Linked DNA regions of Homo sapiens. The protein of the gene in region 3 purifies or fractionates together with the protein of the main gene of each other region. This does not show direct contact. Each region holds a gene or a part of one and is shown on either strand. Other genes may lie near its edges. The genes, in order: MAPK13, OLFM4 and PPA1.

Region 1 (3,653 bases), on a different chromosome or scaffold from region 3:
TATGACTGAAATCCACTAAATGTCTCGAACTATGGTCTGATATCCATCAGAATCACTAGGCTTGGGTCAGGGCGAGAGGTCCTCATTCAAATGCACATTCTAAGGTCTCAACTGCAGACCTGCTGAGTCACAAGCCCTGGGGTGGGGCCCAGGAATCTGCATTTTAACAAGTCCCCTGGTGCACAAGGAAATTTGAGACCCACTGTGCCCGACAGCTTGTGCACATGGAAATTTGTTCTGCCAAAGTTTCTCAGATAAAAACAGAGAGGTTCTAGCCACTGTCAGGTCAAAGCTCTGGAGAGCTGTGCCATCTCCCAAAGGGAGCAGAACGGTTTGCCATCAAGCCAGGCAAGAGCCCATTTCTGCCTGTGCAGCTCGCAGTCTCCGAGCCTGCTGTTGTTTCATATCTTGATTGCTTATCACTCACCCAAAATAACCTGAATGCAATCGCACCAGCTGCAGCTCTCTCTGCAACTCCCTTAATTTAGCAGCCAAACACATTGGGTTCCTTCACAGAGCACAAGGCCTCAGCACGGGGCCCAGGAAGGGGCCCCTCCCTCCCAGCTGTCTGTAGTGAGTTGAATCATTTCCCCCTGGAATTCATGTCCACCTGGAACCTGAGAATGTGACTTTATTTGGAACTAGAGTATTTGCAGGTTTAATTAATAAGGATCAAGATAAGATCACACAGGATTAGGGTGGGCCCTAAATCCAATGACTGTTGTTAAAAGAGGAGAGAACAGAAGAGACAGAGACTGGAGTGATGCAGCAATAAGCTGGGGAATGCCACGGACTGCCCACTGCCGCCACAAGCTAAAAAGAGCCAAGGAAGGATTCTTCCCCAGAGCCTTCAAAGGGACCACAGCCCTGCCAACACCTCCATCCCAGATTTCCAGCCTCCAGAACTGTAAGGGAATCAAGTTCTGCTGTTTCAATCCACCAGGTTTGTGGTAATTCGTTAGAGCATCCCTAGGAAACCAACACAGCATCACTGCCATAGGCCCCCGGCCTGGCTCAGCGCCCACTCAGCCCCACTCTGGCGGGAAGGAAAGGGCCCCACCTGCAGGCGATTCTCCAGATGGGCAGTTTAACGTGGCCTGTTAGGATCAGAGCTAGTTTCTCCCAACCGACATCTTTGAATTCTGCATCTACTAGGCCCATTTCCCACATAAGGAGAAGGACCCTTCTGTCCTCTGCTTGAAAGGCTGTATTCCAAGAAGGGCTGAGTTTGGTAGTGACAAATACTGGTCCTTGGGCAGTGTCTGGCCGGCGGTGCCATGCAAGATGAGTCCCTACAGCTTCATGCCACTCCGGCGCCGTGAGTCCTTCCGGGCAATGGGGCTGAAGTTCACAATCTCCTTGTAGATGTGCTCTGAGAAAGGCAGCATGGTTTAAGGTGCGTAAAGAGGTGCTGTGGCGAGAAAGTCCACCCCCCTTCAGAGACAGCATGGAGAGCGAAGTCAGCTCAAGGAGAAAGAAGCACCCAGGAGACAATGCCCACCAAGAAGGAGGTGGCAGGTAGGGCTGGCAGAGGCCAGGCACAAAGATGGAGGAAGCAAGGAAGAGAGGCTGCAGGCGGAGGCGAGGAAGCCCGAGGCCCCAGCTCTTACGCTTCCATTCATCCACTGTGAGTTTCTCGTGTTCTAAGGAATCATCAAACGGCTGCTGGGCCTCCGTCTCTTCCTCAGGGTCCCGGAAGGGTTCAAAGAAGGGATGGGTGAGGGCCTGCGCGGCCGTCAGGCGCTTGTCCACGTCTAGCTCCAGCATCTTCTCCAGCAGGTCCGCAGCTGCAGGGGCAGAGCCAAGAGCCTCACACCAGGGGCTGGGAGAGCCCGCCCTCTGGGATACGCTGAGAGGCCCCTGGGGAGCGGGCTCTGAGACTCACCCTGGGGGCTGGCCCGTGGGAACAGCTGAGTGAAATCCTTCCTGGGGGTCTGTGGCAGGGACTGGATGTAGGATTTGGCCTGGAAGACAGAAAAGCATCAAACCCCTTAGGGCTCTGGCCTCAGCGTGTAGAGCAGGGATTTCAGAAAAGCCTCAGAGCAGGGCTGAAAGTTCAGGTCAGGGTCCACGGTGAGATTAAGACAAGAGTGCCTGCCAGGGTAGGAGGATGCTGTGGGAAGGTGCTGGTGAGCCTTCTTCCACAAAGGCCTGCAGCCCACTGGGCCCACGTCAGGCAAGCACACAGCCCAGGCCAGCCTAGGTCCCATTTACCACCCACCGCTTTGTCGTTCAGCTTCTGCACAAACTCCGTGCCAGGCACCCCGGTCACTTTCAGGATCTGGGTCAGCTGGTCCAGGTCTTGGTGGCAGGTTAAGGCTTAGCCTTGCTCTCCTGGTGGGTCTGAGACTGCCCTTCCTGCGACCCCACCATCACTTCACCCGGGCACCATGGCAACTGATCATCCAGGCTCCAGCCCTGCCTAACCACCTCCTGCTCTCAGGAGGAGGCTTATTCTTCAGGGCTCAGGGCTCTGGAGAGCTTTCCAACGTGCCAGGCTGAGGGGGGTCCCTACCCAACAAATGGATGTGGACTTCTCAGCCTTCATCCCAGTGACTCTTTTCTGTTTCCTCGTCTTCTCACCAAAGGCCTGCCCTGCACACACAGGTACTCAGTTAATGTGTGCCGTGCCAAAATGTATTTTCCACGTAGTGGTAGAATTTTTCATCATTTTGCTTATCTACATTTTTTTTTTTTTTTTTTTTTTGAGACAGGGTCTCACTCTGTCACTCAGGCTGGAGTGCAGTGGCACAGTCTTGGCTCACTGCAACCTCCACCTCCTGGGTTCAAGCGATTTTCCTGCCTCAGCCTCCCGAGTAGCTGGGATTACAGGCGTGAACCACACCCGGCTAATTTTTGTATTTTTTGGTAGAGATGGGGTTTGACCACGTTGGCCAGGCTGGTCTCGAACTCCTAATCTCAGGTGATCCGCCTGCCATGGCCTCCCAAAGTGCTGGGATTATAGGTGTGAGCCACCATGCCCACCCAACATTTTGTTTTTTTTTTTTTTTTTTTTGAGTTAGGGTCTCCCTCTGTCACCCAGGCTGGAGTACAGTGGCACAATCATAGCTCACTGCAGCCTCAACCTCCCAGGCTCAACCCTCCCACCTCAGCCTCTCAAGTAGCTGGGATTTTTCTTTTTCTTTTTTTTGAGACAGAGTCTTGCTCTGTCACCCAGGCTGGAGTGCAGTGGCGCGATCTCAGCTCACTGCAAGCTCCACCTCCTGGGTTCACGCCATTCTCCTGCCTCAGCCTCCTGAGTAGCTGGGACTACAGGCGCCTGCCACCACGCCTGGCTAATTTTTTGTATTTTTAGTAGATACGGGGTTTCCCCTTGTTAGCCAGGATGGTCTCGATCTCCTGACCTCATGATCTGCCCGCCTCAGCCTCCCAGAGTGCTGGGATTACAGACATGAGCCACTGCGCCAGGCCCATGTCTGGCTAATTTAAAAAACTTTTTTAGAGATGGGGTCTCCCTATGTTGCCACATCTGGTCTCAAACTCCTGGGCTCAAAGGATCCTTCCACCTCAGCCTCCCAAAGTGCTGGGATTACAGGCATGAACCACTGCGTCCAGCCTTATCTGCATTTACAAATTATTCTACAGGGAGTATGTATCACTCTCACATTAAGAAAAAAAAGACAGTTATTTAA
Region 2 (3,653 bases), on a different chromosome or scaffold from region 3:
GCTCAGTGGTGTTCAGGAAAATGGCAATCATCCATGGAGTTAGAGAAGACACAAAAGAGCTTGGGGATGGGCCAGAAAGACTTCAGAGTGTGAACTTTACTAATTTAAGTAAATCATTCATATGAACTTTTCACATATATGAATCTGTAGCTTTGGGAATGCGTGGACAATGCTGACCACATGTCAGCTCCTCCTGGGAGGTGCAGTCTTGGGAGAGGCAGCCCAGCCTGCCTGGGAGCCTCCAGTCCCACATCTGGCACTTGGGGCACTTTCTGCATTTTTTTCTTCTTCTGGAAAATACAGTCATTTGCTGCATAACATTTTTGTCTATGACAGACTGCATATATGACAGTGGTCCCATGAGATTATAAATATCATATTTTTACTGTACCTTTTCTATGTTTAGATATATATGCACACACAAAAACTTACCATTGTATTATAATTGCCTACATTATTCAGTACAGTCACAGGCTGTACAGGTTTGTAGCCTGGCAATAGGCTATATCATATAGCCTGAGTGTGTAGTTGGCTACACCCTCTAGGTTTGTGTAAGTATACAATGACGTTCACCAATGTTAAAATCACCTAACGATGCATTTATCAGAACATGTCCCTGTCTTTAGCTGACCTATGGCTGTATTTTGATCTAGAAAAGTGGTTCTAAATGGAGGGAGGGCGGTAGTGGTGGTGATTTTGTCCTGGTTCTCATAACTGGGGGGTGGGCGAGTGCTATTGGCATCTAAAGACCAGGGACGCTGCTAAACATTCTATCAAGAATATGGGTCTAGCCTTGAGGAGACACGTCCTGTGTCAACATCTTTATCTCGAAGCTCCTCATCATGACAAGTCTGAGCACTAGATGGCTCATCTATGTTTTAGTTGAGCCTTTAAGCCACCAGCCTAACATTCACAGCTTCCATTTTATTTTGCTTGTTATGCACATACTATATCATTGATGAGGAATAAAATTTGTGTGAGCGTTGATTTGAGGGTGCCTGTTATTGTTCCTTATAATTAATGTGGTCTTGTAATAAATAAGGGTGTAGTGCTAGCAAGCTAAAGAATTAATCTGGTTCATGTTTCTGCCAGTCTCTCAAAACCTGTGATTATAACTATGGCCAGACTATTTGAAATAAGTACGTTTACTTTGCAACATACTACTATTTTCAATATATGTTTCAAAGTAAACGTAACAGGGTTCATTGAGCCTGGAGTGATTGTAAAGACATATAAAGTACTTTGGAGCTAGACCCAACTAGACTCAAATCTAACTTCAGTACTTAGTGGGCAAATCACTTAATTTCTTTAACCCTTAGTTTCCTGTAAACTGGGGGTAATGATACTGAGCTTACAAGATTATCATAAAGACTAGAGATAATGTACGTTAAGTGCCTAGTTAATGGAGGCCCTATGAATTATAGAAATTAATAGAGAAACAGTAATTTCAGCATTTTCCAATCTGACCTTTTAATTTATTATATTTCACTATACAAATACGGCTCAATCAATGTTATTTCTTTATGGGTTGCCTTAATGTCTCCTAGGCTGCCTCAACCTTCCCGTGCATGAGGATCTACTAGCAAATGTGTCATATTAAATAACTCATGCCAAAGACCATAAGCCTCCAGAGAAAGAGAAAATCCTGAGCTGCCTTTTGTGCCATCCCTTTCCTAAGTATAGTCACAAAAGGACATACCGTAAACAACAGAAAAGTATAAAATGCTTTCAGCATCTTATGCAGAGGCAGCTCCCTGTCTTCTCTGTGTACTGACAGACAATGAATCAATGTAAGGCAGTCAAAAACCTTTTCTACTGGCCTGTCCTAAACGGGCATTCTCCCAGGCCCCCGGATAAATGACAATTTTCAAGGCAACCTAGGGACAGCTGTAATAACTCACTTGGAAATTCGAAAGCCCTCAGCTAAAGGGATAACTTTGGATTTGAAGGCATTACTACTGCATCTCTTCCTGGGCCTACCTTGGAGGATGCTAACAGCATGGCCAAGAGGAAAGAGAGTTGAGATGATTTTGAAGACTCGAATTCTGACCTGGCTTAACCAGCCAAGAGAGGAATGACCTTGGGCAAGTCTCCTTACCTTTATGAACTGCAGTTTTACTGTCTCTAAAATGGGAGAGACAACACCTGGCCTATCTGCCTTAAAGGGTTACTTGAGAGGAGAGAATAGAACTGGAAGCATTTGAAAAAGCACAAACAAACTGCTACTATTATTGTTGTTATTATCACCTGTCACACTAAATCGATTATATAAATCCTAGCTAGCAGATAAACTTTTTTCTTAGGCCACAATCACAGTTTTTTTGGGATCAGAGCAGCCACCGACACATTCAGAACTAAAACTTTCCCACCTATTCTGCACTTCTTCCCTATCTGTCATTAGCAAAGCAGATGTTACCAGCCCCCCGTACAGTATTGGAATTAAATGTCCCATATTCACAAACCTGGCAAGCCACATACTCTCCCTGGAGCACATAAGGTTTCAAACTGCCTTTCACACTGCTGCCAGCAAAGACAACATGTAAATCAGTAGTTTCCACTATTTCAAAGCAAATGACTCTAACTGAAAAGATCTTTACCTAGGATTTTCCTCTACTTGTTATGTTTTTATGCATAACTTCTTATCTGTACTTGATTATGCTGGAATAAGGCTATGAATATTAATGGTTAGAATTTATAATTTAATGCTGTGCCTTTTCCACTGATTAATTCAAGGACATTATATTTCTTAAGCAGCTAGGTTTCTAGAGTAGTCAAACACATTTTCCTGGACACTCATTTAAACTTAGAATATTTATCTACCAATTCAGGCTGAAAGTAGGGTCTCAGCCTCATCATAATTTTTGTTTTAAAGGATAACTATGTTGGATGTTGAGGTGGCAAAGCTCAAATTTCTTAGGAAAACTTATTCTGAATCTTGCAGTAAAGCCAGAGCTCCTTGTAAATTAATGGAGTTGTATTAAATAATGCATAATGTGATTATAGACTAGCTTGGACTTCACCTGTGCAGAAAATAGGAACTTTTCTAATTGATTTTTAACTTGGGCTGAAAAGGTGGAAGGAGTCAAAACTAGAACACCAAGTCACATTGCTCCAGCCAGCCCAGAGAAAGGCAAACCCTTTAAGATAACTTCCTCTGGCTAAAGAAAAAAACAGTAATCAGAGTTCAAGTCAGTGTTTTTACCAAGGCTGAGAAACCTATTAGTCTTGATTCAAATTCCCAGGGAAGCCTTCAATTTTTGTCTAATATTGGACACATCAAATGTAATGTTCCTGCTGAGACAATAGAAGATAACCATCAAGAAAGAGATGGAGGGTGAGGATGGAAGTGGGGATAGTTAAAGGGTAAAAAATAAAAGTAGTTAGAAAGAATAAATAAGACCTAGTATTCAACAGCACAACAGGGTGACTATAGTCCATAATAATTTCATTGTACATTTTAAAATAAGTAAAAGAGTCTAATTGGATGGTTTGTAACACAAAAGATAAATGCTTGAGGGGATGGACACTCCATTTTCCATGATGTGATTATTACGCATTGCATGCCTGTCTCAGGGTATCTCATGTACCCCATTAATACATACACCTACTATACACCAAAAAAAAATAAGATTAAAAATAAAGAGACTACAACC
Region 3 (3,653 bases):
TGAGACCAGCCTGGCCAATACAGTGAAACCCTGTCTCTAATAAAAATACAAAAAATTAGCTGGGCGTGGTGGTAGGCGCCTGTAATCCCAGCTACACAAGAGGCTGAGACAAGAGAATCACTCGAACCTGAGAGGCAGAAGATGCAGTGAGCCAAGACTGCGCCACCGCACTCCAGCCCGGGCGACAGTGCAAGACTCCGTCTCAAAAAAAAAAAAAAAATTTCAATTAAAGTATAAGGTGAAACACTGTAATTAAGACAAACAAATGACTTTGTGCTTACCTAACAAGCTAGATGGGTCAGACCTATGTTCTACTATCTTATGGGTTGTTTCATAGTACGTTCCATTTAACAGACTTCATTGTTAATAAAAACAAACCATTTATCAACAGCAAAAAAATTAAACTGAATATTTAGTTAGTGTCTCAGCATTAAATTTTAAGTGCCACAGCACTGGCCTAGCCAAAATAGAATTAAATAGATGTCATTTACTCATTATAGATAAGATCCTAGTGATTCTTCAAATATCAAATAAGAACCTACTACATACTGACATTGTGCTGGGAATAAATTGGTAAACAACCCTTCTCAAAAGGTTGACTATTAGGCCAGACATGGTGGCTCACACCTGTAATCCCAGCACTTTGGGAGGCCAAGGCAGGCGGATCACAGGTCAGGAGATCGAGACCATCTGGCTAACACAGTGAACCCCGTCTCCACTAAACTGCAAAAAATTAGGTGGTGGACACCTGTAGTCCCAGCTACTTGGGAGGCTGAGGCAGGAGAATGGCGTGAACCTGGGAGACGGAGCTTTTGCAGTGAGCCGAGATCACGCCACTGCACTCCAGCCCGGGTGACAAAGCAAGACTCCATCTCAAAAAAAAATTTTTTTAATTAAAAAAAAAAAAGGTTGACTACTTAAGAAAACATGATCCTCTCATTACTTTACCACAAAGAGCTTGACCTGAAGAAGAGGGAATCAAAACTCTAAACATAAAGTCAGCAGCTATGACAGCTTGTTGTGTGCAGGTATTAAGTGCTTTATTTTTTGAAATAACCATACCACCTACATACTGTGAATAGCTCAGGGAGGCGATATGGACGTCTCAAGGAGAAAGAAAGGGAGGCAAGTTAGGTAAGCTAGGAATTGGCCATCTTGGGATTTGAACTCTGGTCTGTCTGGTGCCAAAAATCAGTGCTTTTGACTACTACCATACACTCTTTCTTGACTGAACAGACTTGCAACTCAGTCTGTAGAGAATTTATATAGCTTATAACCAGTCCAAAAAAGAAGAAATATTTCAGGAAAGAATAAACGTTCAAATCTGAATTTAAACATTGTAAATATTTAGTTTATCTTGAAAATAAGTTATTTAAGGAAGCATTCTGAGTTAATTATCCCTTCTTATGTTTTCAAAATCTACCATAGAAAAAACTCTCCACAGGTATTCAAACCTTTTTTACTAATAGCAGTAAATTAATATTTAGTAAGCTAAAAAGTACATTGTCAGCAGTTGCATGAAGACATACCTGAGGGATGGCACCATAGTTCCAGATATATCCTTTATACGGGAACAAATTCGCAACATAGCGAAGTTTTCCTTTTTTCACATCTTGTTTAATAGGGTTTAAAGGGTCCTTTGTAGCAATCTGAAATAAGAAAATTTCAAATCTTTGCATATTTGGATGTGAAATACTATTCAAATAAGGATCTGAGGAAATGAATTATGGTACCTATGTTCCCTAATTCCACTTTAATGATATATTTTATCCCTAACACTTTTATAATTGAACTAAGGTGTTTCCATAATCGGCCATTAAGTGAAAGGTTATGTGAGGTATAAAGGAACTATCAAGAAGGGAAAAAGAACATTTACTAATTCTAGAAAGCAAAGACTAAAATTAGCTGGAATAAATTCTAATGTTTGAGTAATAAAAATACCACAATTTTTATTAAAAGGGCAAAATAAATATTATCCAATTTTAGTTTTCCTTCACAGAATTTAAAATTATTCAAATACTTGGGTATTTATTACACAAAAAAAGTGATTACTGTTAAGAGTTTGTGATATAAAATATGTTATAAATATCCATAACAAAAAGGCAATGATGGTAGGTATCATCAGAAAGAAACTAACACCATGCAACTGAAATTCCAATGAGAGTATCTGTGGCTGGGGTGACTAAGGAGGGGTCAGTGAAGGGCTTACAGAGAGTAAGAGGAGAAAAAGTAATTCTAGGCTTTGGGAACATTGGAAGCAAAGATGTTGGGAAGAAAAGTTTGGGGCATATTTGTAAACAGTTGAGTTTAGCTGGAGCCCAAAGGGAAGACTAGTAGGCAATGGGAGATACAACTAGAAAATAGACTGGGACCAGACAGAGAAAAACCTTGACGTTCAGATGGTTCATCCTTGATCAAGTCAGTGTGACTAGATCAAAACCAATATCCTAAGTCTGACTCAAATGTAAGGTGAAATATTACCTCCATTTTTGCATTAGACCAGCGTGGTACTTCAACTACCATGTGAAACACATCCTGAAAAAACAAAGAGAAAGTGAGATGGTCACAGGAGCCAATTTGTTCTCTGAGGGAGCATGCACTATTTCTTCCAAAGTCAAACTGTTCATTGTATCAGATCTTTGAAGTCAATTGGATTTTCAACAAAATGCATCAAAAAAAGAGAATGATGGATGAAGAAATAATGCAATTATAGGAAAATATTCATTATAGAATCAAGGTGGTCAGTATATGATTGCTTACGGTATAGTTCTTCTTAATTTTTATTTACTTCTAAATTTTTTATAGAGGCAAGGTCTTACTGTGTTGCCCAGGCTGGTCTCAAACTCCTGGCCTCAAGTGATCCTCCTGCCTCCACCTCCCAAAGTGCTAGGATTACAGGTGTGAGCCATCTTGCCCAGCCAACTTACTATATAAATCTTTTAACTTTTCTGTATGCTTTAAGTGTTTCAGAATAAAAGCTGACAGTGGAAAGAATGTTCCTAGGAAGGAAACAGTTCTTAAATAAACGTAACAGAACCTGTATCTCTGAAGAAGACCATCTTCAAAACACTCTCCAAAGGCCAGTGTTATTTCCTTCAGAGACACTGCAATTACTCAAAATGTTTTTGGAGCTTCTATTTCAGAGACAGTTTATAAGACAAACCCCAAGTCAGACTAATTACTTGATCATACTTTAGTTTATAAGACGAACCCCACATCAGCCTAATTACTTGGTCATACTTTAGTTTTAGCATCAAACAAAACTCATCAGCTTCATTATCCACATTATTCTCCCAATTCGGCTGTTTTTAGAAATAAAGCCCCCCTGAAAAGGACTTTGACCTTGAAGATAAGAGAATATGCTTTAAAAATATTTTAATCAATGATAGTTCTACTGTAATTGGCTTATAGCCTTAAACTGACTACTATAAAATAGATGATATATTCAGGGAGTAAATTCCCAGATGTGCAGTTTAAAAACACAATGAAAAAACAAACCATACTTTGCCAACCCATTTTGCACACTGGAGTTAAATATGCCATAGGTTATTTAATTAAACTTGAGCTTTAATTATTCAGAATACTATTTTTTTTCACGGAATAGAACTTTAACTGCAGTTTTTCAGTTTTTAGCCTCTACAAAGGGCACAGAT

The links.
Region 1: the proteins of PPA1 (region 3) and MAPK13 purify together in Homo sapiens (co-immunoprecipitation; one large-scale study listed by IntAct). This does not show direct contact.
Region 2: the proteins of PPA1 (region 3) and OLFM4 purify together in Homo sapiens (co-immunoprecipitation; one large-scale study listed by IntAct). This does not show direct contact.

Annotation. Positions count from the first base shown.
Region 1 is NC_000006.12:36,137,013-36,140,665, reverse strand, and holds part of MAPK13 (mitogen-activated protein kinase 13), read right to left. Parts: intron 2,302-3,653; coding exon 2,222-2,301; intron 1,965-2,221; coding exon 1,886-1,964; intron 1,788-1,885; coding exon 1,611-1,787; intron 1,373-1,610; coding exon 1,293-1,372; 3' UTR 1-1,292. UniProt on the Homo sapiens protein: Serine/threonine kinase which acts as an essential component of the MAP kinase signal transduction pathway.
Region 2 is NC_000013.11:53,035,293-53,038,945, reverse strand, and holds part of OLFM4 (olfactomedin-4 precursor), read right to left. Parts: intron 1-3,653. UniProt on the Homo sapiens protein: May promote proliferation of pancreatic cancer cells by favoring the transition from the S to G2/M phase. In myeloid leukemic cell lines, inhibits cell growth and induces cell differentiation and apoptosis.
Region 3 is NC_000010.11:70,216,283-70,219,935, forward strand, and holds part of PPA1 (inorganic pyrophosphatase), read right to left. Parts: intron 2,536-3,653; coding exon 2,482-2,535; intron 1,650-2,481; coding exon 1,530-1,649; intron 1-1,529.